Homo sapiens: one gene and its partners. The protein of the gene in region 7 purifies or fractionates together with the protein of the main gene of each other region. This does not show direct contact. Each region holds a gene or a part of one and is shown on either strand. Other genes may lie near its edges.

Region 1 (4,151 bases), on a different chromosome or scaffold from region 7:
GGTTGTATATTACTTTTCTTTTCTTTTGTTTTTGCCTACTTTTTAAAAATTGTACTTTAAGTTCTGGGATACATGTGCAGAACGTGCAGGTTTGTTACATAGGTATACACGTGCCATGGTGGTTTGCTGCACCCATCAACCTGTCACCTACATTAGGTATTTCTTCTAATGCTATTCCTCCCCTAGCCCCTCATCCCCAAAAAGGCCCCAGTGTGTGATGTTCCCCTCCCTGTGTCCATGTATTCTCATTGTTCAACTCCAACTTATGAGTGAGAACATGTGGTGTTTGGTTTTCTGTTCCTGTGTTAGGTTGCTGAGAATGATGGCTTCCAGCTTCATCCATGTCCCTACAAAGGACATGAACTCATCCTTGTTTATGGCTGCATAGTATTCCATGGTGTATATGTGCCATATTTTGTTTATCTAGTCTATCACTGATGGGCATTTGGGTTGGTTCCAAGTCTTTGCTATTGTGAACAGTGCTGCAATAAATATACGTGTGCATGTGTCTTTATAGTAGAAAAATCTATAATCCTTTGAGTATATAACCAGTAATGGGATTGCTGGGTCAAACGGTATTTCTGGTTCTAGATCCTTGAGGAATTGCCACACTGTCTTCCACAATGCTTGAACTAATTTACACTCCCACCAACAGTGTAAAAGCATTCCTATTTCTCCACATATTTGCCAGCATCTGTTGTTTCCTGACTTTTTAACTAACTGGCGTGAGATGGTATGCCATTGTGGTTTTGATTTGCATTTCTCTAACAACCAGGGATGATGAGCCTTTTCTCACGTTTGTTGGCTGCATAAATGTCTTCTTATGAGAAGTGTCTGTTCATATCCGTCACCCACTTTTTGGTGGGTTTTTTTTTCTTGTAAATTTGCTTAAGTTCCTTATAGATTCTGGATATTAGCCCTTTGTCAGATGGATAGATTGCAAAATTTTTCTCCCATTCTGTAGGTTGCCGGTTCACTCTGATGATAGTTTCTTTTGCTGTGCAGAAGATCTTTAGTTTAATTAGATCCCATTTGTCAATTTTGGCTTTTGTTGCCATTGCTTTTGTGATTCAGTCATGAAGTCTTTGTCCATGCCTGTGTCCTGAATGGTATTGCCTCGGTTTTTTTCTAGGGATTTTATAGTTTAAGTCTATGTTTAAGACTTTAATCTATCTTGAGTTAATTTTTTTTTTATAAGGTGTAAGGAAGGGGTCCAGTTTCAGTTTTCTGCATATGGCTAGCCAGTTTTCCCAACACCATACATTAAATAAGGAATCCTTTCCCCATTGCTTGTTTTTGTCAAAGATCAGATGGTTGTAGACGTGTGGTGTTATTTCTGAGGCCTCTGTTCTGTTCCATTGGTCTATATATCTGTTTGGTACCAGTACCATGCTGTTTTGGTTACTGTAGCCTTGTAGTATGTTTGAAGTCAGGTAGCGTGATGCCTCCAGCTTCGTTCATTTTGCTTAGGATTGTCTTGGCTATACAGGCTCTTTTTTAGTTTCATATGAAATTTAAGGTAGTTTTTTCTATTTCTGTGAAGAAATTCAATGTTAGCTTGATGGGGATATCATTGAATCTATAAATTACTTTGGGCAGTATGGCCACTGATTCTTCCTATGATATGATATTGATTCTTCCTATCCATGAGCATGAAATGTTTTTCCATTTGTTTGTGTCCTCTCTTATTTCCTTGAGGAGTGGTTTGTAGTTCTCCTTGAACAGGTCCTTCACATCCCTTGTAAGTTGTATTCCGAGGTATTTTATTCTCTTTGTAGCAATTGTGGATGGGAGTTCACTCGTGATTTGGCTCTCTGTTTGTGTATTATTGGTTAATAGGAATGCTAGTGATTTTTGCACATTGATTTTGTACCCTGAGACTTTGCTTTAAGTTGCTTATCAGCTTAAGGAGATTTGGGGCTGAGACAAGGAGGTTTTCTAAATATACAATCATGTCAACTGCAAACAGAGACAATTTGACTTCCTCTTTTCCTATCTGAATACGCTTTATTTCTTTCTCCTGCCTGATTGCCTTGGCCAGAACTTCCAATACTACGTTGAATAGGAGTGCTGACAGAGGACATCCTTGTCTTGTGCCGGTTTTCAAAGGGAATGCTTCCAGCTTTTGCCCATTCAGTATGATATTGGCTGTGGGTTTGTCATAAACAGCTCTTATTATTTTGTTATACATTCCATCAATAACTAGTTTAGTGAGAGTTTTTAACATGAAGTGGTGTTGAATTTTATCGAAGGCCTTTTCTGCATCTATTGAGATAATCATGCGGTTTTTGTCACTGGTTCTGTTTATTGATGAATTCCGTTATATTGATTTGCATATGTTGAACAGCCTTGCATCCCAGGGATGAAGCCAACTTGATCATGGTGGATAAACTTTTGGATGTCCTGCTGCATTCAGTTTGCCAGTATTTTATTGAGGATTTTCACATTGATGTTCATCAGGGATATTGGCCTGAAATTTTCTATTTTGGTTGTGTCTCTGCCAGGTTTTAGTATCAGAATGATGCTGCCCTCATAAAATGAGTTAGGGAGGAATCTCTCTTTTTCTATTGTTTGAATAATTTCAGAAGGAATGGCATCAGCTCCTCTTTGTACCTCTGGTAGAATTCGGCTATGAATCTGTCTGGTCCTGGGTTTTTTTTGGTTGGTAGGCTATTAATTACTGCCTCAATTTCAGAACATGTTATTGGTCTATACAGGGATTCAGCTTCTTCCTGATTTAGTCTTGGGAGCGTGTATGTGTCCAGGAATTTATCCATTTCTTCTAGATTTTCTAGTTTATTTGCATAGAGGTGTTTATAGTATTCCCTGATGGTAGTTTGCATTTCTGTGGGATTGGTGGTGATATCCCCTTTATCATTTTTTATTGTGTCTATTTGATTCTCCTCTGTTTTCTTCTTTATTATTCTGGCTAGTTGTCTATTTTGTTAAACTTTTCATAAAAACAGCTCCTGGATTCAATGATTTTTGGAAGGGTTTTTCGTGTCTCTATCTCCTTCAGTTCTGCTCTGACCTTAGCTACTTCTTGTCTTCCGCTATCTTTTGAATTTGTTTGCTCTTGCTTCTCTAGTTCTTTTAATTGTGATCTTAGGGTGTCGATTTTAGATCTTTCTCACTTTTTCCTGTGTTGCCCACTTTTTAAAAATGTAAAAGGCATTCTTAGGTCAAGGGCTGTATGAAACAGTCCGTAGGTCTGTGTTTTGCCAACCTATGCACTAATGAAAGGATGTCTAATTAGGATAATCACCATATAATCAAATCCTGAGATTCCATTATTAAATTTATGGTACAGAAACTCTTTGGACAGGAATGGCAGCCAGCCTCTAAAGTGGCAGCCAGCCTCTAAAGTGACCCCCAGTGATATTTGTCTCCGGTTATTAACACCATTATACCAGCCCCTCCTACACTCTACCAGGGTTGGTCTGTGTGATCAATGGAATACAGCAGAAGAGGCAAAAGATACCAGCTTTCATCTTAGGCACTCTCTCTCTCTCTCTCTGTTGGACCACTGACTCTAGGGAAGCCAGCTACTGTGTTTTGAGGATACTCAGGCAGCCTACAGAAAGGCTCACGTGATAAGGAACTGATGTTTCCAGCCAATAGCCAGTGAGGCCTGGCAGCAACATGAGTGAGCTTGGAATCCGCCTCCAGCTGATTCCAAGCTCTGACTACCATCTTGACTGTGGGCTGTGAAAAACCCTGAGCCAGAGGCACCCAGCTAAGCTGCTTCCAGATTCCTGACCCAGAGAAACTGTGCGATGATAAATGCTTGTTTTAAACTGTTAATTTTGGGATAACTTGTTAGAGAGCAATAGACAACCAACACGAACACCATCACACAGTCAGACTTGACAATGGTACTCACCTCCATTGGATATATAAAAGTCTGTGCAGTTGCTCCAGCCATGGAACCAGAAATAAATCTCTCAAATGTTCCTATTTTTTGTCCTTCTTCAGTAAGTAACTTCTTGTACTGTATAAACAAGTTTTAAAATGCACATTACTACCTGCTGTGGACTGAGCTGCACCCCCACCAAATTCATATGTTGAAGCTGTAACCTCCCATGTGATGGTATTAGGAGATGAGGCTTCTGGAGGTAATTAGGGTTATGAGGTCATGAGGATGGAGCCCT
Region 2 (4,661 bases), on a different chromosome or scaffold from region 7:
GGTGTCCCTGGTACTGCACTCCTGAGTTTCTCCCTGAGTTGTCTGCCGCTCCTTGTTCAGCCATACCACCATGGGGTGACTCTGTCAAGCACCTGGGGGTCCTGGGTGCCCAGCTTGCCAAGTGATCTTGGGCCTATTCCTTGCCCTCCCTGAGCCTCAGTCTCTCATCCTCCATGGGAGGATGTAATTTTCCTGAAAAAGACAGGGCCGGGCCCACCCAGGGTCCACTTCCACTCAGCATCTTGGATTCCAGGGAAGCAGACAGCGTTCAGGTCCTGCCCTTCTGTGACTCCCTGCAGCCACTGCTTCTTGAAGCCTTTGTCTCTAAGCTTCTGTCCAGCTCAAACCCACCCAGGTGCCAGGGTCTTTGGACACCAGGGAGCCAGGTGTCCACATTCCCTGGCAGGAGTAGGAGGTTGACATGAAGCAGGAGGCCGATGCACAGGCCAGGTACCAGAGTATGATCAGGAGGAGCTGGGCTTCCCCACTGTTGGGTAGAGCTTGCGCAGGCTGGAGTCCAGGAGGAAATCCACCGACCTGTAGGGAGTGGAAGGGTGGTGAGCAGGTGACCAAGGGTGTTCATGAGGGAACAGAAGGCAGAAGGCCAGGGTTAGGGAAAGGGGCGCTTAGATGCAGGATACAAATGCCATCCAGCCAGAGACCCACCCTTATCCTGATCCTTCCACCTTGGGCTACCTGGGGAAGCTAGAATCAAACTCCCAGAATAGAAGCCATCCTCTTCTTTATTCAGGAGGAAACTGAGGTACTGGGTAAAAGACTTGCTCAGGGCCTCAGGGTCAGCTATCTTCTCCTGGAGAAAGACTGCTCCTCTCACTCTTACATTGGTCTGGTTGGGTTGAGCCCATATCTAGTTCTAAGACCAAGCACGTGACCCAAGCCTGGCCAATCAGCAAAGGGAAACTGGCTCATAGGGTGGGCATGCAGTCCAGAATGGACCAATGACACCCTTCCTTGGGATTTTTGTTGTTACTGTTTAAAAGCTTCTGCTGGGGGAGGCTAAGCTGGTGGGATAGAACTTGGGAGCTGCTAGGGCCATTTCTACTCCCACAAGGAGAAAGCAGGTGAAGCCAGCAAGAAATAGGGTGGGGTGGGGAGAAAGGCAGCAGGATGGGGAGACCCAGACCCCTAATGACATAATTTGGGTACCTAGATCTAGCCATGCCTGAATGCAACACAGCCCTGGACTTTTACTCCATTTTATTCAAATATTCAGTTTGAGTTAGGCTTCTGTCACCAATACCTCCCAAAATGCATCCCCTCTAGGGTGCACCTGCTCCTGCTTCTCTCTGGTTGTTTTGTAACACTAGACTTTCTTTCTGGGAATTTACTTGTCCTGTGTCCCATACCCTCAACGCACCCCTCTTCTTTTATTGCTAAAGTGCCTGCCATACCATATGACAAGGGTACAGGCTGTCCTTTCTAACCCAGGAGCCAAGTGCCAGCCTTGTCCCTGCTATTGCTCCAGCAAAGTGGGCATACCCCACACTTCACAGAGTCTAGCTCTACCTGGAGACTGGATGATCCACTCTCATCACTGGAGAGTGGATGATCCCTGAGGCCAAGAAGGTACCCACCTGTCAATGGGGTGGATAATGATGGGGATGGTCAACAGCCCAAGCGCGGTGGTGGTCCACTTGCGGACAGCCAGGGGCCAGCGGGTGGCAGTGCCCAGGACATAGAGAGAGGCAGCACACACGCGGTTGATGGTGAAGCCCGGAATGGCCACAGAGGCTAGAGCCTGCCATACAAAGGTGTCCACCACAGCCACAGTCACCCTGGCGCTGCGGCCTGCTTCAGGGCTGGGCACCTGGTGGGCGCAGAGACACTTAATCCAGCTGGGGCAGAGGCAGAAAATCCTGCGACAAGGGGCACGAGGCTAGACCGGGAGGGGCAAGTGGCCAGTGGACTTGTCCGCACCCAGGAGTGGGGTACAGTCTGCCACATCCAGTTCGGGGAGTGGGAGTGTGGGGGCAGGGGTACACTGTCCTACAAACAGGACTGTCTATGGACTGCACTAGGCAAGGTTGTAGGGACTGGAGTGTCCCACAGGGACTTTATCACATGCAAGGCTGTGGACTGAACCACACAAGAAGAGAGCTAGGGTTGGGGGTTGGAAAATAGGCTAACACTCACCTCTCCAGCCTTCTTGCCTTTGTCAATGGCATCCGCCAGCACGTAGGAGCTGGCCACGCCATAGCTCAGCCACACCACCGCCGCTGGCACAAGAGAGCGGAAAGCCTCGCCCACCTCATTGGCATAGCCTGGGGGAGGGAACATTTAATTCCTAGGCTCGCAACTGTTCCACGAGGGGGCGTTGGAGCAGGCTGGTTCTCATCCTAGCCAGCTAAGCAGTCCCTGGGTGACCTTAGGCAAGTGACTTGACCTCTCTGAGCCTCCCTTTCCGAGATGTAAACTGGTGCCATGATGCCCACCTCGGACTCGGGCCACTGAGGGCGGACTGAGCACTGAGTCACTGTTACCATTGCTTATTGGTTAGATTTCCTGGTCTTGGTCCCAGGAGTAACTGCACTAATGAGGTGACAGGCACCCAGAGGGGCAGAGTGATCGAGGGCAGCGCCACTGACCAGACGCTCGCCAAGTGCCAGGGCTTTCTGCGCTTTATCCCATTCCACCCTCGCAACCACCACCCAATGAGAGAGGCCCTCGTGTGTATCTCGTTTGTTTTTTGTTTTGTTTTTGTTTTTTTGCCGAGGAGGAAACTGAGGTTCAGACAGAGCCAGTGCGTGTCAGGACCGAAATGGGAGTGGAGATCCCGACTCCACAGCCAGCCAGAGCGCATGCCAGAGCGGGCAGCCCGCTCACCCCATGGGAGCTTCCGCCCTGGGCGACCCACCAGGGTAGTGTGACCTTGGGCAAGTCCCTAGCCCTGTCTGAGCCCAGTCTCCGGCCCAAAAGCAGAATGAGAACTAAGATCATCCCGCCTCCTCCAGGCCCCGGGCGGGCGTCCGGCGACCCCTGCTTCTCCAGCCCAGTGGTGGTGGGGTCGCCGCGCCCGTCGCCCCGCGCTCACCCAGGTATCGCACCCACGTGTCCCGGTAGAGATCGCGCTCTGCGCCCCGCGGCTGCGGCTCTGACATGACTCTCCCGCCACGGCCCCGGCCACTACAGCCGGTACTGGCTCCACTGCAGTCTCCGCCGCCGGCACTTGGGTCTGCCCGGCCGGGACCCGCCGAAAGTCCCGCGCCGAAGGACAGGTCAGGAAATCTCCGCCAGCAGGGAGCGTCTGCAAATTCCCCCCGCGCACCGAAGCCCCTCTCCCAGGCTCGGGTTTTACAGACTGGTTTTCGTCACGTTTTCTCTGAGCTGTTGGCGCTAATCGCTCCCAGGACTGAGTGTAGGTTTTGGAGCCAAAGAGACAGGGGATCAAGTTGGGGGATGCTACACTGCAAAGCTTGTGACCTCGGGCTTATCCAGCATCTCTTTATTCATTTGTAAAAACGAGGGAGGGACACAGGCTGGGCCCGTTGGCTCACGCCTGTGATCCCAGCACTTTGGGAGGCCGGAGGCGGGAAGATCTCTTGAGCCCAAGGGTTCGAGAACAGCCTGGACAACATAGCGAGACCTCGTCTCTACTAAAAAAAAAAAAAAAAAATTAATGTAATAAATAAAATGGGGAACACAATAGTGTCCACTCCCTAGGATGGTTCCGAGGATTAATTATAACAGTCACCATTTATTGAGTTTATTGCCAGTCTACATGTTCGCTAAAGGACTCTCCATGTCTTACACCTGAAACCCTCCCACCAGCCTGGGAGCCCGTTTTACAGGTGAGAAAATGGAGGCACAGAGAAGGTGGGTCATTTTCCCAGAACACACAGCTGCTAAGTGGTGAAGTTGTGATTTGAATCCAAACAGTGTGGATCCAGATCCCGTGCTCTTAATGCGAGCTCTAAATGAGGCTAGAGGAGTGAACGGTGAGCCCCTGGGAGGTAGGTGCCTGGACTCTGGAGTCCCTTCTCAGCAGTCGCCATGTATAACTAGGAAGCACTCGCATTTAACTGGATCAGTATGTCCCCAGACTGAGCTTCTTGGGGACAGGATGTTGGATGAATTAATTAACGAATGAATGAATCGGGCAAGGGAGACAGAGTTGGGGTTAGTGATTACAACAGGAGGAAGCCTTCCCCCGCTGGACCTCAGTTCACCCAGGTGAGCAATGTGTGCACTTCACTAAGTCTCTGTGACTCCTTGGCGGGTATAATTGAGCGGCGTTGGAGACAATCCTGGGTTCAAATCCTAGCTGTGCCGCCTACTGGCTGTTAGCCTCCCTGAGCCCCAGTTCCCACGTCTGCAAAAAAAATGAGAGTAGCCAACATTGACGAGCACTTACTTATACCAAGCTCTTAAGCGCTTTGCACGGCTTATTTCCTTTAATCTTTGCAACAACCCAAAGTGTAATAGTAAGCACAGGGTTTTTGCGTGATACCCGGTAGGCCTTATTAAGAATTAGCTCTTATTTTCATCAAAGGTAGAGAAAATGAGTAACTATTGAGGCCCCCGCTGGCTCCCTACGGAGGCCCCCGCTTTCAGCCCTAGGCGCCTCTGTCTTGTAGGGCTGTATAGGACAGTCCGGTCAGCAGTTACCTCAAGCTGAGCTGGGCTTGTAGGTTGGGGAGGGT
Region 3 (4,151 bases), on a different chromosome or scaffold from region 7:
AATTTTGGGGTCTTGCATTACTTCTCCCCACTCACCCCACCCCTGAGATCGTATCAGGAAGCTGCTAATTACCAGGTGTTTTCTATTTATTAGGAGGCTGCCTTTTCCTAGCACTAGCTGTGACCAATAATTACTTTAGAGAGCGTTAACAACCGCCTGACCATCACCTAACAGTCTCTCCACACTCCCCATGTGAGGGGCAGGGGAGACCTCTCCTGCCCTGTTCATACCCAACTAGCTACCTAATGTAACACAGTCACTTCTTAAAGGTCCTACCTTTCAATATTTTAATAATATTAATTTAAATATTAATTTCCAAAAAATGAAATTTGGGGGACACATTCAAACCATGGCACCACCTCTTAGCTTCTGTGACATTTCTCTATCCTGGCTTTCCTCTTAACTCTAATGACTTATTCTTAAATTCTTTTGTGTATTCTTCCTTATCAGTTTATCCCTTGTTGGTTTTTCTATGAGGTTGGAGAGAGAGTGTGTGTGTGTGTGTGTGTGTGTGTGTGTGTGTGTTCACACGTGCATATGTGTGTTTTATCCTAGATTCTGAACTTTGTCCCATATTAGATGTATAGCCAACAATTTATTAGATAAATCCATGGTACTTGGATGAACCCAGGCTCCTCAGGTCTTTACACATTTGTCTCCCTTTTTACTGGAATGCTTTTCCTCTCTCCATCTTTCTTTTGCTCTCCCCTTTCTCCTTCCTCACTGTCTTTTATTCACTCTTCAAGGTTTTGCTCCAGTGTCACCTCCTCTGGAAAGCCTTCTCTCTCTCTCTGTTTTTTTTTTTTTTTTTGCAATGGAGTCTTGCTCTGTTGCCCTGGCTGGCATGCAGTGGCGTGATCTTGGTGCGCTGCAATCTCTGCCTTAAGGGTTCAAGCGATTCTCCTGCCTCAGTCTCCCAAGTAGCTGGGACTACAGACGCCAGCTACCACACCCGGCTAATTTTTGTATTTTTAGTAGAGACGGGGTTTCACCATACCGGCCAGGCTGATCTCTACCTGACCTCAGGTGGTCCACCCACCTCGGCCTCCCAAAGTGCTGGGATTTCCACCTCCTGGGTTCAAGCGATTCACATGCCTCAGCCTTCCAAGTAGCTGGGATTACAGGCACCCGCCACCATTCCTGGCTAATTTTTATAATTTTAGTAGAAGTGGGTTTTCGGCATGTTGGCTAGGCTGATCTCGAACGCCTGACCTCAGGTGATCCTGCCTCAGCCTCCCCAGTTGCTGGGGTTACAGATGTGAGCCACTGCACCTGGCCTGGAAAGGCTTCTCTCACTGTCCCTCACAACAATTTGGGTCAGAAGCTTTTCCTGTATACTCCCGTTTCCCTTTATCATTAGCCCTTAATATGGAGTGTCCTAACACTGTATTTACAGAGAGTTTACTTAACTCCCCTACTAGATTGTCTAGATTGTTAGGATTGTTTTTTTTTTTAATTTTTGTGGTTTTTTTTGTAAATGGAGTCTCGCTCTGTCACCCAGGCTCGAGGTCAGTGATGCAATCTTGGCTCACTGCAGCCTCCACCTCCAAGGTTCAAGTGATTCTCCTGCCTCAGCCTCCCAAGTAGCTGGGATTACAGTCGTGCACCACCACGCCCAGCTAATTTTTGTATTTTTAGTAGAGACAGGGTTTCACTGTGTTGACCAGGCTGGTCTCAAACTCCTGACCTTGGGTGACCCACCACCTCAGCCTCTCAAAGTGCTGGCATTACAAGTGTGAGCCACCATGCCCAGCCCAGTTTTTACGAATTTCTACTTTTTGAAAATGCTCTCCTAAAATATATTTTTAAAGGAATATAAGAAGAAAAGAAATACAAATTTTACTTTTTACTGGTTTAGTGCCATATTTTCATTGCTATTTTGAAAATAATATTACATGAAATTATTACCCATTACACTAAAAATTCTTTCCATGCTGGTAGTCATTGGAATTGGCACAATTCTGGAGCAACGTCTTCTCTACTAAAAAGATATTTTCATGTATCAAAATTCTTAATTTCTTGGCATTTAGTCTTTTTAGTCAAAATTCTCAAAAGAAGGATATTAGTAGTGATTAGGTCTACTCAGCATACTATGTTGAGTTTTGAAAAGTACTCTCTTTTCTCCAGATATTTTGAAAACTCTTTAAAGAGTCTTGCTATCAGGCCCAGTGCTGTGACTCACGTGCCTGTAATCCCAGCGCTTTGGGAGGCCAAGTTGGGAGGATTGCTTGAGCCCAAGAGTTCAAGACCAGCCTGGGTAACGATATAAGACCTCGTCTCTACAAAAAAATTTAAAAAGTTATCTGGGTATGGTGGTGCTACTCCCTGTAGTCCCAGCTGCTTGGGAGCCTGAGTTGGGAGGATTTCTTGAGCAAAGGAGTTTGAGGTTACAGTGAGCCAAGATTATGCCACTGTATTCTGGCCTGGGTGACAGAGCCAGACCCTGTCTCAGAAAAAAAAAAAAAAAAAAGTTTTGCTTTCAAACCACTACACATTTAACATTAAAATTGAGTTTTCATTGCTTTTTTGAAAATTAAAATTTTATGTAACATGAAATTATTATTTTCTATTTTAGTAGAGATGACAAATGAAGCTAAAGGTAATACAGGAAGAAAATGAAAACCAGAGTACCTAAAATGAAAGATATTTTAACGGCTAGAACTTTAAATATTATGTATCATTATACTTTTGCATATTATTTCTTATTTTTTTCATAAAGAAAAACGCACCTAAATATTTTCACTTTAAATATCTTTAGGGAATTACCAGGCACGGTGGCTCACACCAACAATCCCAGCACTTTGGGAGGCCAAGGCAGGCAGCTCACCTGAGGTCAGGAGTTAAGAGATCAGCCTGGCCAACATGGTGAAACCGCGTCGCTACTAAAAAAAATATAAAAATTAGCTGTGCCCACGTGGTGGCACATGCCTGTAATCTCAGCTACTTGGGAGGCTGAGGCAGGAGAATCGCTTGAACCTGGGAGGTAGAGGTTGTAGTGACCTGAGATCGCACCATTGCACCCCAGCCTGGGCAACAAGATCAAAACTCCGTCTCAAAAGTAAATAAATAAATAAAATAAAATAAATAAATAAATATCTTTAGGGAACAAAAGGTCATAGTTTTCCTTATTAAATTGTTCTACCACTTATCTATATTTGTTTAAATTTATTTCCTAAAATTTAATAAAAGCCATTAAATAGGAAGATTAGAGATAGAATCTTCCTATGTTGCCCAGACTGGAGTGCAGTGGCTTTTCACAGGTACAGTCATAGTGTGTTACAGCCTCCAACTCCTGGGCTCAAGGGATCCTTCTACTCTAGACTGCTGAGTAGCTGAGATTACAGGCATGGGCCACTTCGCCTGGCTTAGCCTACCACATATGAAAAAAAGTAATCTGGCTGAGTGCGGTGGCTCATGCCACTAATCCCAATATTTTGGGAGGCCAAGGTGGGAGAATTCCTCCCTCCCGCGGCAGGAGGATTGCTTTGAGAGTTGGAGGCGGGAAGTTCAAGACCAGCCTGGGCAACATAGGGAGACCCTGTCTCTACAAAAATAAAAAAATTAGGTGGGCATGGTGGTGCATACCTGTAGTCCTGGCTACTCAAGAGGCTGAGGCAGGAGGATCACTTGGGCCTCAAAGGTCGAGGCTGCACTGAGCCGTGATCGGACCACTGCGCTCCAGCCTGGATGTCAGAGTGAGACCCTGTCTCAAAAAAAAAATAAAAATAAAAATAAACAATAGTGCCTTTTCTAAGCTAACATTTTCTATTTTTCTGAAAGTATTTTATTTTCTGAGTTGTAGTCATTTGGTTCTCCCCTTAAGTTCATCATGATATGTAAACCCTTTTAAAGTGGTAGAATACTGAGTGGTCTATATAGAACGGAAGAATTTATAACAGGTTTATTGAGATAATTGTCTATCATCTTTTGTGTTTTTATTATCTTCTTTATGCATTTGACTCTTGTGCCTAGTTTTTTTAAAAAAAATGATTTACAGCGCTAATGGCTGTTTAACGTATAGGGTAGCATAAGTCTAAAGAATTCTATTTACAAGAATTAAAGAATAGCTTATATTATTTTTCATGATGTTATTGCTATATGCGTATATAGTGTGTGTGATTATCTTCTTACCAAGGTTTATATGAACCAAA
Region 4 (3,590 bases), on a different chromosome or scaffold from region 7:
TTTCTTCTCCCTTCCTAGGCAAACTGACTGTTGGATTTGCCATGTACTACTTTACATACGACTCATGGACTGGCAAGGTACTTTACCTAGAGGACTTTTATGTCACACAAGCTTACCAAGGTAAAACTAAAATTTATGATATTACTTTTAAATACTTTAAAAATTAAAGTGACATATTTTAAGGAGATAGGGCTTTACTATACATACGGTGTTTTAGTTAATGTAACTTATTGCTACTTAATGAGTTTGATCACTATCCTAATGAGTTTGATCTAATCTGTGATTGTGAAGACTCAGTCACAGATTAGAAAAACATTTTATTAGTTCCTCTCAAGGTTTGAATAAGCCAAGCTATCACATGGCTATATATTTTTTTATTTTGTTTTTGAGACAGGGTTTTCTGTCACCCAGGCTAGAATGCAGTGGTGTGATCACGACTCATTGTAACCTCAACCTCCTACACTCAAGCAATCCTCCCACCTCAGCCTCCCAAGTAGCTGGGGCTACAGGCATGTGCCACAGCACCCAGCTAATTCTTTATTTTTTGGAGAAACAGGGTCTGTGTTGCCCAGGCTGGTCTCAAACTCCTGGGCTCAAGTGATCCTCCTGCCTTGGCCTCCCAAAGTGCTGGGATTACAGGTGTGAGCCATCGTGCCATCACATGTGTGAGCCATCGTGTGAGTATAGGCCACACAGCTATACTTTTATCTTTAAAAAATGCTTTCACATTTTAGGTGGTTTTCAGTAAAAACAGCTAAGAAATATACCGTTATAAGACAATAGTGGCAGAGACTCACTTCTTCACTGATCTTTAAAATAAACCCAAACTCTTCTATGACCTTTGGTACGTCATTCCAATTAGGAAAAAGGGATATGAAAGCATTCACGAGTTGTGTTTCCAGAAGCTATTAATAATATACAAAAAACAGATACAGAGTTTTAGATATTATTTATTTTAAACTAAAGCAAATAACAAGTTAAGTGAAATTTGCAGTTTTCACTTTGCATTGTCTATTTAAAAGGCCTAGGTATTGGAGCTGAAATGCTGAAGAGGCTAAGTCAGGTATGTATTACAATTAGTATTGATATTCTATACATTAACCTTTTCTTAATAAATATTCACAGGGCATAAATTAAATCATTAATCTCACCATTTGAACATAACCCCAACATATACTTCAAATTTCTACCCAAATTAAACTGGATTTTCAAATCAGATGATCATATACAGTATATGAATTATAGTCAATTAAAATTGATTTATATATAATCCACAACCACACTATACACCCTTTTTGCTATCAAGGGAAAGTAAGAAGGAGGGAGATTAGAAAGCATTTTTATTCAAAAACACAGGCTCACAGTATGAATATTACAAGACTATAAAAGCAAGATCTTCTTGTATTTTGGAAACATATGAGAACATGTGTTCTTTTAGGTACACCTTTTCTGTATGATAAAGGCTTTGCAAATCAGTTTTGAGATTTTAAAGAGGGCTTTAAAGCTCAGAACAGTGAGACTTTTTTCTTTTTACAGCTATAGAAAAGTTCAAAAGGTAACTACTATATTTGGAAGTATTATTCACACATAGTGTCTTGCATAGAGTAGACCTTCAATAAAATATATGTGTTAACGAAGATTATACTTTCAAATGAAAGTAATATTTGCTTGTTTGTTTTTAAACAGATAGCCATCACAACTCAATGTAACTGCATGCACTTTCTTGTCGTCATTTGGAACCAGGCTTCTATCAACTACTATACTAGTCGAGGGGCTTTAGACCTTTCCTCTGAGGAGGGCTGGCATCTCTTCAGGTTTAACAGAGAAGAACTCCTGGACATGGCATGGGAAGAATGAAAGAGGCTTTGTAACAACTCATCCCAACACAGCCTCCAACATTTGACTGTCACCTGAGTCTAACAGCAGTTTGACTTTGTTGTACAATACAGCAAGTGATCATCACATTCTTGTTTGAGCAGATCTTTTATTTTGAAACAGATTTTGTAGCTCTAGTCAACTTTCCATTATCCAAACCAATATTCTAACGGCTAGTAGCAGTAGTGATAATCCAAAAGAGCAGATAATTTAAAAGTCACTTATACTTAGCTTTGCGCTATTTTTTACCTATCATATTTCATCAAAATTAAGGTGCTTTTCACAATTTGACATATCTGATGTCGGGATAAATGTAATGATCAACTGGCAGCATTTTTTGTTTGTTTGTTTTTAGAGGCAGGATCTTGCTATGTTGCTCAGGCTGGTCTCAAACTTTTGGCCTCAAGCAATCCTCCCACTTCAGCCTCCCAGACATAAGCAACTCTGCTCAGCATTTTTTTTTAAATTAAAGGTATATGATATGCCTTAGATTTGATGAAATATGGGTGTTTGAATATATTCAGATCTGAGGTTTAAAAAAATTCATTTCAAATACTGGAGATAAATTCTGAAGAGCTTACTTATGAAAAACTAGCAAGTAAACTGCTTCCCTACCTTGAGCAGCTTAAGTACCACTGCCTCCTTGACATCATCCCAGTACTACATTCTATCTCTGAACATCCATAGCTCTTTGGTTGTACTTATCTTAGGGAAGATACCACATACAACACTATATTTCTATGTTTCTCTCTTTCCTAGTAGAGTATAAGTCCTTTGAAATAATTCTAACTTTTGTGTCCTGTGCTGCAACCAGCATAGCAGAACGTGTGAGTTCCTACTACCTACCAGGCACTTCATGGGCATAGAAACTACACAAAAATTATTCAGTGATATCCACAAGGAACCTTGTCTGTGAGAAAATATTAATTACATAAATTGTGTAAAGTACCATATCTGTAAATACCAGCTATCACTTGCTAGTTTTTCATAAGTAAGCTCCTCAGAATTTATCTCCAGGATTTGAAATGAATTTTTTAAAACCTTGGATCAGATCTCAAACACACTCATATTTCATCAAATCTAAGACATATTATATACCTTTATTTTTTATTATTTATTTTTTGAGACTGAGTTTTGTTCTTGTGCCCAGGCTGAAGTGCAATGGCACGATCTCGGCTCACTGCAGCCTCCACCTCCCGGATTCAAGTGATTCTCCTGCCTCAGCCTCCCAAGTAGCTGGAATTACAGGCATGAGCCACCACGCCTAGCTAATTTTGCACTTTTTGCGTGTTTTTAGTAGAGACAGGGTTTCACTATGTTGGTCAGGCTGGTCTCAAACTCCTGACCTCAGGTGATTCACCCACCTTGGCCTCCCAAAGTGCTGGGATTATAGGTGTGAGCCACCATACCCGGCCATACCAAATACCTTCATTTTTTTAAAAAAGGCTGAGCACAGTCACTCATGTCTGGTTGGCTGAGGTGGGAGGATCGCTTGAGGCCATGAGTTTGAGACCAGCCTGGGCAACATAGCAATACCTATCTCTAAAAGACAGAACATCTAAATTCTACCCTGGAGGATTGAGAAAGGGAACATGACACTGGAATTGGACTTGTAGGATGGGTAGAAGTTAGAATGTAGAGCAGGATAAGATGGAAGAACATTCTAAGAGGACACACTAGCACAGGCAGAGAAAGAGGCAATAATGAGCAAAGCA
Region 5 (4,151 bases), on a different chromosome or scaffold from region 7:
AGTTTCCAGCATGCAGTCAAGCACTTTGACAAGGGAATGCTAAACACACTGCAGACTGAAACATAACTATACTGCAAGCTGGGCTATTCAGCTGGTACGACTTCATTATTCAGACTGTAACTCTCAAGTACTTAGTGTTACAGGTCTTCATTGATCAGATACATGAAGGACACAGAAGGACATAAAATGCCAAATCCCTTTCTAGTGCCATCATAAATATTAAGAACTTCTGGTTGAAAGAGCATGCTGAAATGAACTGGCCAGGGTGTTTTATGTAACAACCTTTTTCTAAAATAAAATCTCAGGCCCATGTGACACTGGATTTTTGTTTTAGTTTTGTTTGAATATTTTAAAAATAGTTCTTACTTATTTTCTATGAAACGTATTGGGAACTCAAAAAATCTGCAGCATTTTTTGATCATTGAAAAGTTTGTTTTGGTGGGAGGTGCAGAAAGCAGGAACTATTCAAATTTCTTGTGTTCTTCAGTATGAGAAAGGATCTTTCTTCTCTGGTGTATCATGTGGAAGTATAACTGGGGAAAAACTGAAAAGAAAAGAAAAATTGGTTAAGAGGATGGTTTAAAATTGCATATGCTCTATTTAAAGCATATGAAGTTGAGGTCCTCTCTGACCCTCTGACTAATTTCTCATCCAGCAACCAAGGAAGGTAACAAAGTGGGCTTGGGGAAAGGAAGAAAAAACACAGAGAGACTTACCTCCTTTCTTTTCCTGCTTTAGCTGAGGGAAGAAGTGGTGTGGAATACAATGACAGACACTATTGTCACTATCATGACCTATATCGATGCCACAGAACAGCCAAATAATATTCTGTACGCTCATTCATGTATTATCTCCACATTTATTCTGATTAACTTCACAACAACCAGGTGAAGAATTCTAGTGATGAAGTTATTATTCCTATTTCAAAGAGGAAGAATTTGAGCCCCAGAGAGGGTAAGCAACTTGCCTAGGGTCTCACAGTAAGCCACAGACAGAGTTGGGACCAGGCTCTTGGCTCCTGACCCTCAGCCTAGCCCCATATGGTCCCAGGGCAGGTGATTCTTTGGGAAGAGCAACCTCTCTTGGGAAGTAGTTTCGGGTAAAGACTTGAGGAGGAGGAGGAATGCCACAACATTTGCTTTGAACACAACTAAGCCAGGTTTGGATGTTAAAAAAAAAAAAAAAAGGCCTTATGAAAAGCAAGCCAGTGTCTTAGGCACTGGGGATTCTTCTGTTCTTGGTCATTTTGTAGAATACTTTAGAAAGCACTGGTTCTCAAATGAATGGGATAGTACTGCCTCCCTCGGAACTATTTGGAACTATTTCGATAGTTTGACTATTTGGAAATAAGGGAGAAAGGGAAAGGTTACTGGCATTTGGCATATGAGACCAGGGATGCTAAAACATGCCATAATGCATGACAGTACCCACTACTAAGAAGTATCCCACCCAAAATGCCTATAGTGTCCCTGCTAGGAAATACCACTTTGAGCCACCTGGCCTTCACAAGGTTACTGTGTGTAAACAACTCCAGGTAAAATGCTCTTTGTTGTACAATATCCTTCCTCTCCTCATCTCTCCAACAGCTCCAATCTCTATTTTATTGTTATTATTTTTTTAGACAGAGTCTTACTTTGTCACCCAGGCTGGTATGCAGTGGTGTGATCTTGGCTCATGGTCTGGACCTCCTGGGCTCAGTCAATCCTCCCCACTCAGCCTCCTGAGTAGCTGGGACTACAGGTGCACACCACTTCACACCCAACTAATTTGAATTTTTTGTAGAGATGAGATCTCCTACGTTGCCCAGGCTTGTCTGGAACCCCTGGGGTCAAGGGGTGTGCCCGCCTCAGCCTCCCAAAGTGCTAGGACTATAGGCATGAGCTACCAAGCCCAGCCCAGTCTCTCTTTTTTATACTGTCACGAATATTTTTTGGAAGATAATTTCTACTACTCCCAACTCTCTCCTGACAAGTTTCTTCCTTTTTAAATGGGTTCCAAGCTGGCCAGATTTCAAATGATCCTCCCAAAGTACGCCGGGACACCAGTGCGTGTGTGACAAAGATCTGCTAACCTGCAGAGGAGGCAGCACGTGGAACAGGGCTGCCATCCACGCCATTGCTACTGCCAGGCAGGACGTCGTTCACAGAAAAGACCCCACTTAAGCATATAATTCGACAGGCAGAGAACTATTTTGGCACGAAAGCCAGAAAATCTGACAAGCTCTATAATCTAAAAACTGGAAGTAAAGATATAATTAAACCATTAGGAATGTTAATGGTAATCATTTAAAAATGTGGGGCCAGTCCCATTTCTATAGATTTACTGTAATGAAGGGAATCTGTGAGCTGGGCATGCACAAGACCTTCCCACTGGTTGCATTTGTGTTCACACAACCCCATAGTGGGTGGCTGCAGTCTCACAGCTGGTTCAGAGGGCCCGGGGAAGGAGAATGACCTGGAAGTCATGCATTAAGCCCTTGGTGGCAGTTCAAGGAAGAAGATGGCCACGCAGACCTTCATTTCCATGGGCAGGGCCTGCCACCTATCAGAAGGGTCAGATGATGGCACTTTCACTCCTTTACATCTCCCAGAGATTCCTCAGTACCCAGAGAAAGGAATGTGGATGGGAGGCCAAGGGCCTAGGGTGTCTGGCCTATTCTCCACAGTTCAGGCAGTGGCTTCTGGCTGACCAGAACTATGATTCTGTCTCCATCTGAATCACCTACATGTTCAGACTGAACCCGACCATGAGACTGAAAGCTTTTCAGATGCACGGCTGCCACTTTTAACAACATGAGCTACACTGAGGAATAGCACTGAAAAAACCCCTCAACCCGACAACAGGCTATTGAGAATTCCACCTTCTGCTGTCCCAATTCAGGGAACACAGAATGGGGACACTGCTGGGCACGTGTGTGTGACAGTCCCTGTGTGTTGGGGACGAGGGGGGTGTGGGTGCTGCTGGGCCCTCCTTTCTTTAAGAAGATGGCCAGCCCTCTTGGGGCTCTCTTCCCCTCTGGGGAGAGAACTGTGGAGGACGACAGCACCAGATATGCTCTCTGCCTGGGCCAAGTCTCCTTGGTTTCTCTAAAAATCAGAGGTGTGGTTACAGTCACTGACAACCTGGAAAGCGCCAGCTTCTCCAGGTCCTCACCCCTCATCAATGTATCTTGCCCTTTTTTGGCTCCCTCCACCATAACCAATTTTCACCAATTTGGGGGTGGAATGTAAACAGGCCTTAGACATCTACTGAGTCCTGCAGGGACTGTGTTGTACTAATCCTGTATATATTGCAACTACAGCAGAACAGGAGAGGAGCACCTGGCCAGGGCACCCCAATATGAGGAAACTCCTGGGGTCAAGCCTCATGAGCCACAATTTAGGCTATGTGTGCAACAACGCAACAACAGATGAGGCCCATGAAAAGGAGGTGTTACTTTATATAATACATGTGTATCATCAACTTGCCACTAAAGATTAAAAGAACGCTACCTTGTTTAGAAAGAAAACCAAATTTGGTAAAGGAGACTGCATGTCAACAGCAACCTCTCCTAATTCTGCATTTTCTTCTGATAAATACAAAGCTTTGGAAAGTTGGAAATGTGCAGCTGGCCAGAATGAACTGTACACTCTGGCCTCAACAGTAACAACCTGAACCACTGAGAACATCCAGAGCTGCTGGCTCAGGCCACAGCACAGTGAGGCCAGCAGGCACCAGGGTGACTCGCATCAGGAGAGGTAGTCTGTGTGCCATCTTGAACCTGGGTGAGGAGTCAATGGTTTGCAGGGAATCTTTTAATCATTATTTGAGATCCACCCTTTTCTCCGGTCTACAAGAGGTTAGCTGCCTTAGAAAAAGAAATTATGTTAGACTTTAACTGAGCCAAGTTCTCTTACCAAAAGGAGGCTGAGACTGCAAGGGGGAATTACTTAAGGTAAAGAAAGCAGACTTCTGTTGGGAGGAGAGTCCTTCCCTACTCTCTGAAAGAGGGGTCCCCAACCGCCACCTGTTGGAACAGAGCTGCACAGCAGGAGGTGAGTGGTGGGCAAATGAGCATTACTGCCTGAGCTCTGCCTCCTGTCAGACCAGCAGTGGCTTTAGATTCTCATAGAAGTGTGAACCCTGTTGTAAACTGCACATTCAAGGGATCT
Region 6 (4,151 bases), on a different chromosome or scaffold from region 7:
GCTCCCGGCAGCCCAGCACAGGGCGGCGCTCTGGAACGAAAAAGGGAAAGAAGAATGAGAAATTCACAAGCAAAACCTCAACAACTCAAGTTACCGCACATCACATTTAAGGGACACCTGTGAGTTTCAACCTCACCATTTCAAAACAAGTCTTGGGGTGGACGCAAAGCTGACAAATGCCCCGTCGTTCAGAACATTCACAGAGGCGGTGCACGGCTGCAGTCCTAGCCCTGTGGAGGCCAAGGCAGGTGGATCACTAGAGCCCAGGAAGTCAAGACCAGCCTGGGCAACATGGCAAAGACCCCATCTCTATAAAAAACAGGAAGATTAGCCAGGTGCCGTGGTGCATGCCTGTGGTCCCAGCTACGCAGGAGTCTGAGGTGGGAGGATTGCGCCACAGCACTCCAGCCTGGGTGACAGAGCGAGACCCTGTCTCAAAAAACAAACATTTAGAGCCACACAGAGATGCAAACAACACACTTGCCACACGTGCTGACGTGTATGATCAGAGAGACACGCCTGCGAAGCCGTCCCCCTATGATCAGAGAGACACACGCCTGCGAAGCCATCGCCATATGATGAGAGACACGCCTGCGAAGCCGTCCCCCTATGATCAGAGAGACACACGCCTGCGAAGCCATCGCCATATGATGAGAGAGACACGCCTGCGAAGCCGTCCCCATATGATCAGAGAGACACACGCCTGCGAAGCCATCGCCATATGATGAGAGAGAGACGCCTGCGAAGCCGTCGCCATATGATCAGAGAGACACGCCTGCGAAGCCATCCCCATATGATGAGAGAGACACGCCTGCGAAGCCATCGCCATATGATGAGAGAGACACGCCTGCGAAGCCGTCGCCATATGATCAGAGAGACACGCCTGCGAAGCCGTCCCCATATGAGAGAGACACGCCTGCGAAGCCGTCCCCATATGATCAGAGAGACAAGCCTGCGAAGCCATCGCCATATGATGACAGAGATACGCCTGTGAAGCCGTCCCCATATGATGAGAGACACGTCTGTGAAGCCGTCCCCATATGATCAGAGAGACATGCCTTCGAAGCCATCGCCATATGAGAGACACGGCTGCGAAGCCATCGGCATGGTGGGGGTGACAGCTGCGTCCTTCGCCCGGCTTCCTCTGCTCCTCTGCACTGCAGCCCCCAAGGCACCCCGGCACCCCTGGATCTGTCCCGTGACTGAGCTGCACTTTCTAGAGCCTGACACAAGTGGAAGCCTCTCGTTCACTCTCCTCCCTTCTCCGCTTCTTTCACTCTGCATCGTTTTCTGAGGCCCGCCTGTGCCCGCTCCTTTCTGAACCTGGGAAGTGGCCTGTTCTGGGGAGATGCCAGTTTAGTGCCCGCTCCTCTGTGGAGAAGCATTCAAATGGTGTCCAGGGCAAGTCTGTGTGGCCTGGGCTTTCACTGTGCCGGGACAAATACCAGCTGTGGAAGGGCTGGGCCACAGGGAAGGTGCACGTTTAACTGTTTTAGAAACTGTCCAACCATTTTCCAAAGTGTTTGAGCCAGTCCGCGCTCCTTCCCACTCTCAGCGGCACGCGGTACGCTCAGTCTTGAATTGAAAGCAGTCCGAGAGGCACAGTGGCATTTCCGTGTGCTTTTCCTTTGCATTCCCCGATGACTAACGACGCCGAGCGTCTTCTTCACAGGCTTGTTTGCCGCCTATCTTCCCTGGTAAAGGGTCTTTCCAAATTGTTTTCTGCCCATTTAAAAAAATGGATTGTTTTCCTGCTGAGTTTCAAGAGCTCTTCCTATACTCTGGAGATAAATCCTTACATACATCATCTCCAAACATCTCAGTCTTTGGTTTGTCTTTTCGTTTTTTCAACAGGCCTTTGAAAAAGCAGAAGTGTTCATTTTGATGAAGTCCACACATTGCTTTACCCTGTTACAGAGCGGTCTTTTGAGGACGCACCCAGGGAAGCGTGGCCCGGCCCACGGTCACGAAGCCTTCGTCCTAGCTCTGCGGTCTTTTGAGGATGCACCCAGGGAAGCGTGGCCTGGCCCGCGGTCACGAAGGCTTCGTCGTCACTCTGCAGTCTTTTGAGGATGCACCCAGGGAAGCGTGGCCCGGCCCGCGGTGACAAAGGCTTCGTCATCACTCTGTGGTCTTTTGAGGACGTATCCCGCGAAGTGTGGCCCGGCCCGTGGTCACGAAGGCTTCGTCGTCACTCTGCAGTCTTTTGAGGATGCACCCAGGGAAGCGTGGCCCGGCCCGCGGTGACAAAGGCTTCGTCATCACTCTGCGGTCTTTTGAGGACGTATCCCACGAAGTGTGGCCCGGCCCACTGTCACAAAGGCTTCGCCCTAGCTCTGCGGTTCTGGGCTTTACCTTCAGATCCCTGACGCATCTGGGGTTAATTTTTTGACTCCAAGTTCACTTTCTGGTGTATGAGTGATCCTATCATTTACAGTATCCTTATTAAAAGATGCCATTAAATGGTCTTTGAGCCTTCATCAAGTCAGTGGTCCGCGTGCGGGCGCCTGTTTCTGGACGCTCTCGTTCTGCTCATCGGTCTGAAAGCCAACACCACGTGGCCCCATGACTGTGGTTTTGTGAGTCTTGCACCCAGGACCTGCTGCCATTCAGCTTCACTCCTCCCCAGTGTTTCGGCAGCTGTGGGTCCTTTGCACGCCCACGAGAATTTCACAATCAGTTTGTCGATTTCTACAGAAAAGCCTTCAGGGACTTTGATGAAAAGATTCTGATCTTCAAAATTCAGGCCGGGCACGGTGGCTCATGCCTGTAATCCCAGCACTTTGCGAGGCCAAGGCAGGCGGGTCACCTGAGGTCAGGAGTTCAAGACCACCCTGACTAACATGGTGAAACCCCGTCTCTACTAAAAATAGAAAAAATAAGCCGGTCGTGCTGGCGAGCGCCTGTAATCCCAGCTACTCAGAGGCTGAGGCAGCAGAATCACTTGAACCCAGGAGGTGGGGGTTGCAGTGAGCCAAGATTACACCACTGCACTCCAGCCTGGGCGACAGAGTGAGACTCCATCTCAAAAAAAAAAAAAAAAAAAAATTCAGAACAACTGTAAAGATAGAAATGAAACCATGATATGTCAGGATTTAAAGGGTCTTTTTCTATTTTTAGAGAAAGGGTCTCACTCTGTCACCCAGGCTGGAGTGCAGTGGTACGATCACAGCTCACTGCAGCACTGACCTTCTGGGCTTAAGTAACCCTCCTGCCTCGGCCTCTCAAAGTGCTAAGATTACAGGTGTGAGCCACTGCATCCAGGCTAAAGGGTATGTTTTAATAAGAACAGCTTGTACCAGGACACCCCATTTTTAACCTTTTTCTGGTTATTTTTCTGTTTTTATCCTGTATTATGGAATTAGTTCCAAATAATTAAAATTCTGCTGGCTGTTTAAATGATCCTGTCATCATTTTGTAAAAAACAAAAAAGCCAGGGTGCAAACACACCTCTCTTCGTTTTTTTTTGAAATGCAGTCTCGCTCTGTCATCCAGGCTGGAGTGCAATGGTGCGATCTCAGCTCACTGCAACCTTCACCTCCTGAGTTCAGGCAATTCTCCATTCTCATGTCTCAGCCTCCTGAGTAGCTGGTACTACAGGTGCATGCCACCACACCTGGCTAAGTTTTGTATTTTTAGTAGAGATGGGGTTTCACCATGTTGGCCAGCCTGGTCTTGAACTCTTGACCTCAGTATTACAGGCATGCGCCACCACGCCCAGCTGCACCTTTCTTCCTGATGACGATCCGCTCTGGAAAGTTTGCAAAATGAGAGATGCGTGACCAGGAACAGCCGGGGAGGGGTCTGCTGACAGCTGAACAGAGCTTTGTGGGCACCTGGGCTTCTGGGTGTTTCCAAAGAAATACTGGCCGGTGCTGGGCAGGGGTACGCAAGGCCTGGACACAGGCTGGGACTGGTTTAAGGCCTGTTAGGAACTGGGCCCCACAGCAGGAGGTGAGCAGATGGTGAAGGAGTGTGACCGCCTGAGCTCCACCTCCTGTCAGATCAGTGGCGGCATGAGATTCTCAGGGGAGGGCAAACCCTCCTGTGAACTGTGCGTGTGAGGGACCTGGGTTACGTGCTCCTTATGAGAATTGAATGCCTCATGATCTGAGGTAGAACAATTTCAACCTGAAACCACCCTGCTCCCT
Region 7 (4,151 bases):
TTTTCAGTGAAACTGTGCACTCTCCATCCCATGTGCTCCAGCGTCCCCACCCAGGTGCACATCAGCAGGGCCTAGCACATGTTAACACACTCAGGGTATGCCCGTAGCCTTGAATTTGGGGCAAGTAATTCACCTCCCCGAGCCTCAGTGTTGATCCTCTGAAAAATGGATAAAACCAGCTACCCTCCCTTGGAATCTCAGGCCACCCAGCATGCTGGTTCCCTGCCTACAGTCGTGGGAATGTCTGAGTCTTCAGGTAGGGAGGGACCTCAGTGGCTTCCAGCCCACCACAGCTGTGCCCTGATGGGTTACCTGGAATACTGGCTGGACTGAACAGTGGGCACAGTATGGCTGGTGGTTTGGGGGCCACAGACAAGGGTTGCCACATTTTATTGAGTTTTGTCCTGAAACCACCCAGTGTTTCTGCCTACAGTCTGGGAAAGGGCCACAGATGTCTTATTTGCCTTCAGGGATGTCCCTGCAGCCTGAAGGGTTCCATATTAGAGCCTTATAAATAGCCAAAATGAAGAACTGGTGAAACAAGAGTGAAGCCCCTAATTCCAATAGCTTTGATACGTATTGGTACTTCAACAACTAGATTTTCCAAATATATATTGAACAGAGGGAGAAGCCTGTGTTTATTCCAGGACAGCCCGGAAGATTGTCATATGCCCGTTCTTTCATGGGACAAACTGTAGTTGCTGAAAATAAATTGCCTGTGAGTTCTCCTCTCTGAGCCTCCTGGACGTTTCCTGATTCAGTATCCTGCAGTGCCGTGTGAGCCCCCGGTGTTGGGTTTCTTTTGTCCACATGAATAAGGGGTACAGAGAATCAGCTCTGGGTGGGCTGAGACAGAAGAAGCTGTCACCCGATGGCCATCTGAACTGCAGGTCAGAATCCTGGCATCTTCTCTGGTTTACCCAATTTGCTTGGGGCCCCACTTTGTGAATTACAAGCTCATCTCTGTTCACAGCAGGGGAATCTTTGCATGGTTTGTGGGAGGGGACTGACTGTCTGGGAATCTGTCATGCTTGTGAGTTACTCTCTGTATTTTTGGTATTTGGTTTCTGGATACAGGTGAAGCAGTTAAAAAATATTTGAATATGGTCAAGAGAACTTTTGGAAAGATTCTATTTAAAGCTATATATGCCGTTTGGGTACTGGCGGAGGTGGTAAAATTTACAAGGAAAAGCCATGTGGGAATGGCCCAGGCGAAATTAGTCTGATGACATCTGATAAGTAATGACAGATATCATGCCTCAGTTTCCTCATCTGTAACATAGGGAGGTGAAATAGGGCCCTTATTAAATCATGACTAAATCTGGTGGGTGTAAATGCTTGGAGAACTGAGTGTAAACTTTAAATGAAGGCGCTATGATTATTTTTTATTTATTTATTTACTTTTGAGACAGAATCTCGCTCTGTCACCCAGGCTGGAGTGCAGTGGCATGATCTCAGCGCACTACATCCTCTGCCTTCTAGGTTTAAGCAATTCTCGTGCCTCAGCCTCCCAAGTAGTTGGGATTACAGGTGTGCACTACTATGCCTGACTCATTTTTTGTATTTTTTTTTTTTTTTTTTTTTTTTTTTTTAGTACAGACAGGGTTTTGCCATGTTGCCCAGGCTGGTCTTGAACTCCTGAGCTCAGGTGATCCGCCCACCTCGGCCTCCCAAAGTGCCAGGATTACAGGCATGAGCCATCATGCTCAGCCGATTACAATTTTTTATTAAAGCCTGGAATGGAAGAACCCTTCCAGGCTGTTGCCAGAGCTCAGGATGCTTGGCCCTTCTGCCTTCCTGGATTCATTTCATTCCTCTCCAGGTTCCTGAGGGTCCAGAGCTAGAGACAGAAGAGACTTAGAGATGTTTCAGGCTCTTCTGGGTTGGAGCAAACCTTCAATTGGGCAAGAGCTCAGCCACTGTTGGCTTCCTCTCAAGGCAGAGGGGCTGGGAAGCTGCCTGTACCCTCATGCCCCACCCACAGAGCAGGGACCCAGCTGTCTACTTAATCCAGCAGAAACAGAGGACAAAGAAGAAAGAGAATGAGGGAGGAGATGACATTTCTTAGGCACCTTCTATGCTCTAGGCACTGGTGTTAACAGTTTAACATCCATATCTCTTTCTGTACTCCAGTCCTGGGAGGTGGGCGGTGGTCTCTCCGAGGGACTGAGAGGAGACCTCCCTAGATTAAGTGGCAGGGTCATGTGTCCAGCCAGACATGGCATAGGGGAATGCCAGGGTCTTTCCACCAGCCCTGTTGACCTGGCGCCAGAGTCCTAGGTGAGCAGTGGTCTCACGGAGCAATTTGGATTTTGAAATTTTGCACAGAAAATGAGACTTTGTCTTTCTGGGTTGGCCTCATGGGGTCAACAGGAAGGCAGATCTTAACATCTTGCTTCCTAATGCCTCTTAGACATACTGCAGTCTGCCAGTGGAATCACTTGATGGCCTTTTACCCGAATCATTTGATTGCAGTGGCTCCTTTGGGAGAGCTTTAGCAAAGACTATAATTAAAGGAATCATTTTTTAAAAATGACAGAAATAGGGGCCGTGTATTTTGGATGTGTTCTGGGTTACTTGCCAATATTGTGTTAACATTTATTCCAAACAAATTTCTGTTCACAGTGGCAGTCCATAAATGTATTCACGTTCCAAGACAGTCAAACACAAAAAGGTCACATAGGAAGCACTGAGTATATGAATTTTCAGAAAAGTCCACCAAACACTTATCTGTCTGATCCCAAAGGGTAGCCAGGCGAAAATCAATATAAAGCCTTAAAAAAATAGCCTGCAGTCACCAGATTTGTCTGATGTTTGTGTTTTGCAGAATTGGCTATCCAATTCCCATATTTGCGGGATTCTGCATCATGTTTGTCTCAACAATTAGTAAGTGTGTGGTGTTTTCCTTCTGAGTGTGGGTCTCATCAGGGTGGGCATTGATGCCCATGAGCCGGGAATTAACAATACAACCTAAGGACGGCGGGGGGGCGGGGGGGGTCGTGGTTGGCTCATGCCTGTAATCCGAGCACTTTGGGAGGCTGAGGTGGGCGGATCATCTGAGGTCAGGAGTCCGAGACCAACCTGGCCAACATGGCAAAACCCCGTCTCTACTAAAAATACAAAAGGTAGCCAGGTGTGGTGGCATGCACCTATAGTCCCAGCTACTGGGGAGGCTGAGGCAGGAGAATCACTTGAACCTGGAAGACGGAGGTTGCAGTAAGCCGAGATTGCACCACTGCACTGCAGCCTGGGCGACAGAGCAAGACTCCATCTCAAAAAAAAGTATATGGCCTGGGAGGTTTGTGTATTGGCAACAATTGCAGAAAGGAATTGATAGCTTTTTACGGAACAAAAGCACAGGGTGGCTAACATGCAAATGCTCCACTGGGTTAAGGGGGGCTTCTGAAACGTTCCTGTTTGGGACGGTTGTGTCCCAGCAGCACTGATGTGCGGTCTTGGACCCCCTCTCTCGGCAGTGTTTGCCTTCTCCAGCAGCTATGCCTTCCTGCTGATTGCCAGGTCGCTGCAGGGCATCGGCTCGTCCTGCTCCTCTGTGGCTGGTAGGTGTGGAATGCCTGAGTGAGTTCGTGAGGGGCCCCTTGCAGAGTGAGCTGGACTCATTCAGGGAATTCAGGTATTGGTGGTGGTTGGGGTGCTGGGGATTCTTGGAGAAGGCACCCACTTTCCTCTTGGGTTCTGCTTGGTCTTACATTTTAGTGAATCTGACAGGTTTGGGAAGATCACAAGGCTGGCTGGAGAGGGAAGGCGAGTCACGCATTATTCTTTTGCTGTTCCCCGGAGCTGGCCTGTTGACTATTTCTTTCCCTGTGTAGGGATGGGCATGCTTGCCAGTGTCTACACAGATGATGAAGAGAGAGGCAACGTCATGGGAATCGCCTTGGGAGGCCTGGCCATGGGGGTCTTAGGTGGGTAAGGCCCCCGTGTAGGCAAACTGGCAAGAGGGGCCTGCCTGGTGCTGGACAGCGGCAGTCCTCGCCCAGTGACCCTGGCGCAGTTTGCACTGACACAGAGGTCCCCTTTTTATTTTTTTCCTTTCCTGCTTTCATGGAGACTTTGAAAAATGGTAGGAAGAGCCCTGAGCTGGGGGTGGAGGGGATCAGGACTTCCCCTGCCTCTGCCCCAAACCTCCC

What was found.
Region 1: the proteins of SLC18A2 (region 7) and SLC25A24 purify together in Homo sapiens (co-immunoprecipitation; 2 studies listed by BioGRID and IntAct, with this or other methods). This does not show direct contact.
Region 2: the proteins of SLC18A2 (region 7) and MTFP1 purify together in Homo sapiens (co-immunoprecipitation; 2 studies listed by BioGRID and IntAct, with this or other methods). This does not show direct contact.
Region 3: the proteins of SLC18A2 (region 7) and MFSD8 purify together in Homo sapiens (affinity purification with mass spectrometry; one large-scale study listed by BioGRID and IntAct). This does not show direct contact.
Region 4: the proteins of SLC18A2 (region 7) and APOOL purify together in Homo sapiens (affinity purification with mass spectrometry; one large-scale study listed by BioGRID and IntAct). This does not show direct contact.
Region 5: the proteins of SLC18A2 (region 7) and HACD2 purify together in Homo sapiens (affinity purification with mass spectrometry; one large-scale study listed by BioGRID and IntAct). This does not show direct contact.
Region 6: the proteins of SLC18A2 (region 7) and DNAAF5 purify together in Homo sapiens (co-immunoprecipitation; 2 studies listed by BioGRID and IntAct, with this or other methods). This does not show direct contact.

The regions. Positions count from the first base shown.
Region 1 is NC_000001.11:108,144,396-108,148,546, forward strand, and holds part of SLC25A24 (mitochondrial adenyl nucleotide antiporter SLC25A24), read right to left. Parts: intron 3,992-4,151; coding exon 3,884-3,991; intron 1-3,883. UniProt on the Homo sapiens protein: Electroneutral antiporter that mediates the transport of adenyl nucleotides through the inner mitochondrial membrane. Originally identified as an ATP-magnesium/inorganic phosphate antiporter, it also acts as a broad specificity adenyl nucleotide antiporter.
Region 2 is NC_000022.11:30,424,338-30,428,998, reverse strand, and holds the start of MTFP1 (mitochondrial fission process protein 1), read right to left. Parts: upstream 3,232-4,661; 5' UTR 3,120-3,231; coding exon 3,053-3,119; intron 2,283-3,052; coding exon 2,155-2,282; intron 1,829-2,154; coding exon 1,596-1,828; intron 538-1,595; coding exon 465-537; coding exon of another isoform or gene 325-464; 3' UTR 1-324. UniProt on the Homo sapiens protein: Involved in the mitochondrial division probably by regulating membrane fission. Loss-of-function induces the release of cytochrome c, which activates the caspase cascade and leads to apoptosis.
Region 3 is NC_000004.12:127,944,238-127,948,388, reverse strand, and holds part of MFSD8 (major facilitator superfamily domain-containing protein 8), read left to right. Parts: intron 1-4,151. UniProt on the Homo sapiens protein: Outward-rectifying chloride channel involved in endolysosomal chloride homeostasis, membrane fusion and function. Conducts chloride currents up to hundreds of picoamperes.
Region 4 is NC_000023.11:85,090,658-85,094,247, reverse strand, and holds the end of APOOL (MICOS complex subunit MIC27 precursor), read right to left. Parts: 3' UTR 1,858-3,590; coding exon of another isoform or gene 1,687-1,857; 3' UTR 1,064-1,686; coding exon of another isoform or gene 1,023-1,063; 3' UTR 933-1,022; downstream 1-932. Other genes in the region: SATL1 (spermidine/spermine N(1)-acetyltransferase-like protein 1), read left to right, coding at 19-120, 1,023-1,063, 1,687-1,857. UniProt on the Homo sapiens protein: Component of the MICOS complex, a large protein complex of the mitochondrial inner membrane that plays crucial roles in the maintenance of crista junctions, inner membrane architecture, and formation of contact sites to the outer membrane.
Region 5 is NC_000003.12:123,494,427-123,498,577, forward strand, and holds part of HACD2 (very-long-chain (3R)-3-hydroxyacyl-CoA dehydratase 2), read right to left. Parts: exon of another isoform or gene 545-4,151; coding exon 462-544; 3' UTR 1-461. UniProt on the Homo sapiens protein: Catalyzes the third of the very long-chain fatty acids (VLCFA) elongation four-step cycle (condensation, reduction, dehydration, and reduction).
Region 6 is NC_000007.14:750,468-754,618, reverse strand, and holds part of DNAAF5 (dynein axonemal assembly factor 5), read right to left. Parts: intron 31-4,151; coding exon 1-30. UniProt on the Homo sapiens protein: Cytoplasmic protein involved in the delivery of the dynein machinery to the motile cilium.
Region 7 is NC_000010.11:117,250,572-117,254,722, forward strand, and holds part of SLC18A2 (synaptic vesicular amine transporter), read left to right. Parts: intron 1-2,827; coding exon 2,828-2,886; intron 2,887-3,476; coding exon 3,477-3,560; intron 3,561-3,833; coding exon 3,834-3,926; intron 3,927-4,151. UniProt on the Homo sapiens protein: Electrogenic antiporter that exchanges one cationic monoamine with two intravesicular protons across the membrane of secretory and synaptic vesicles.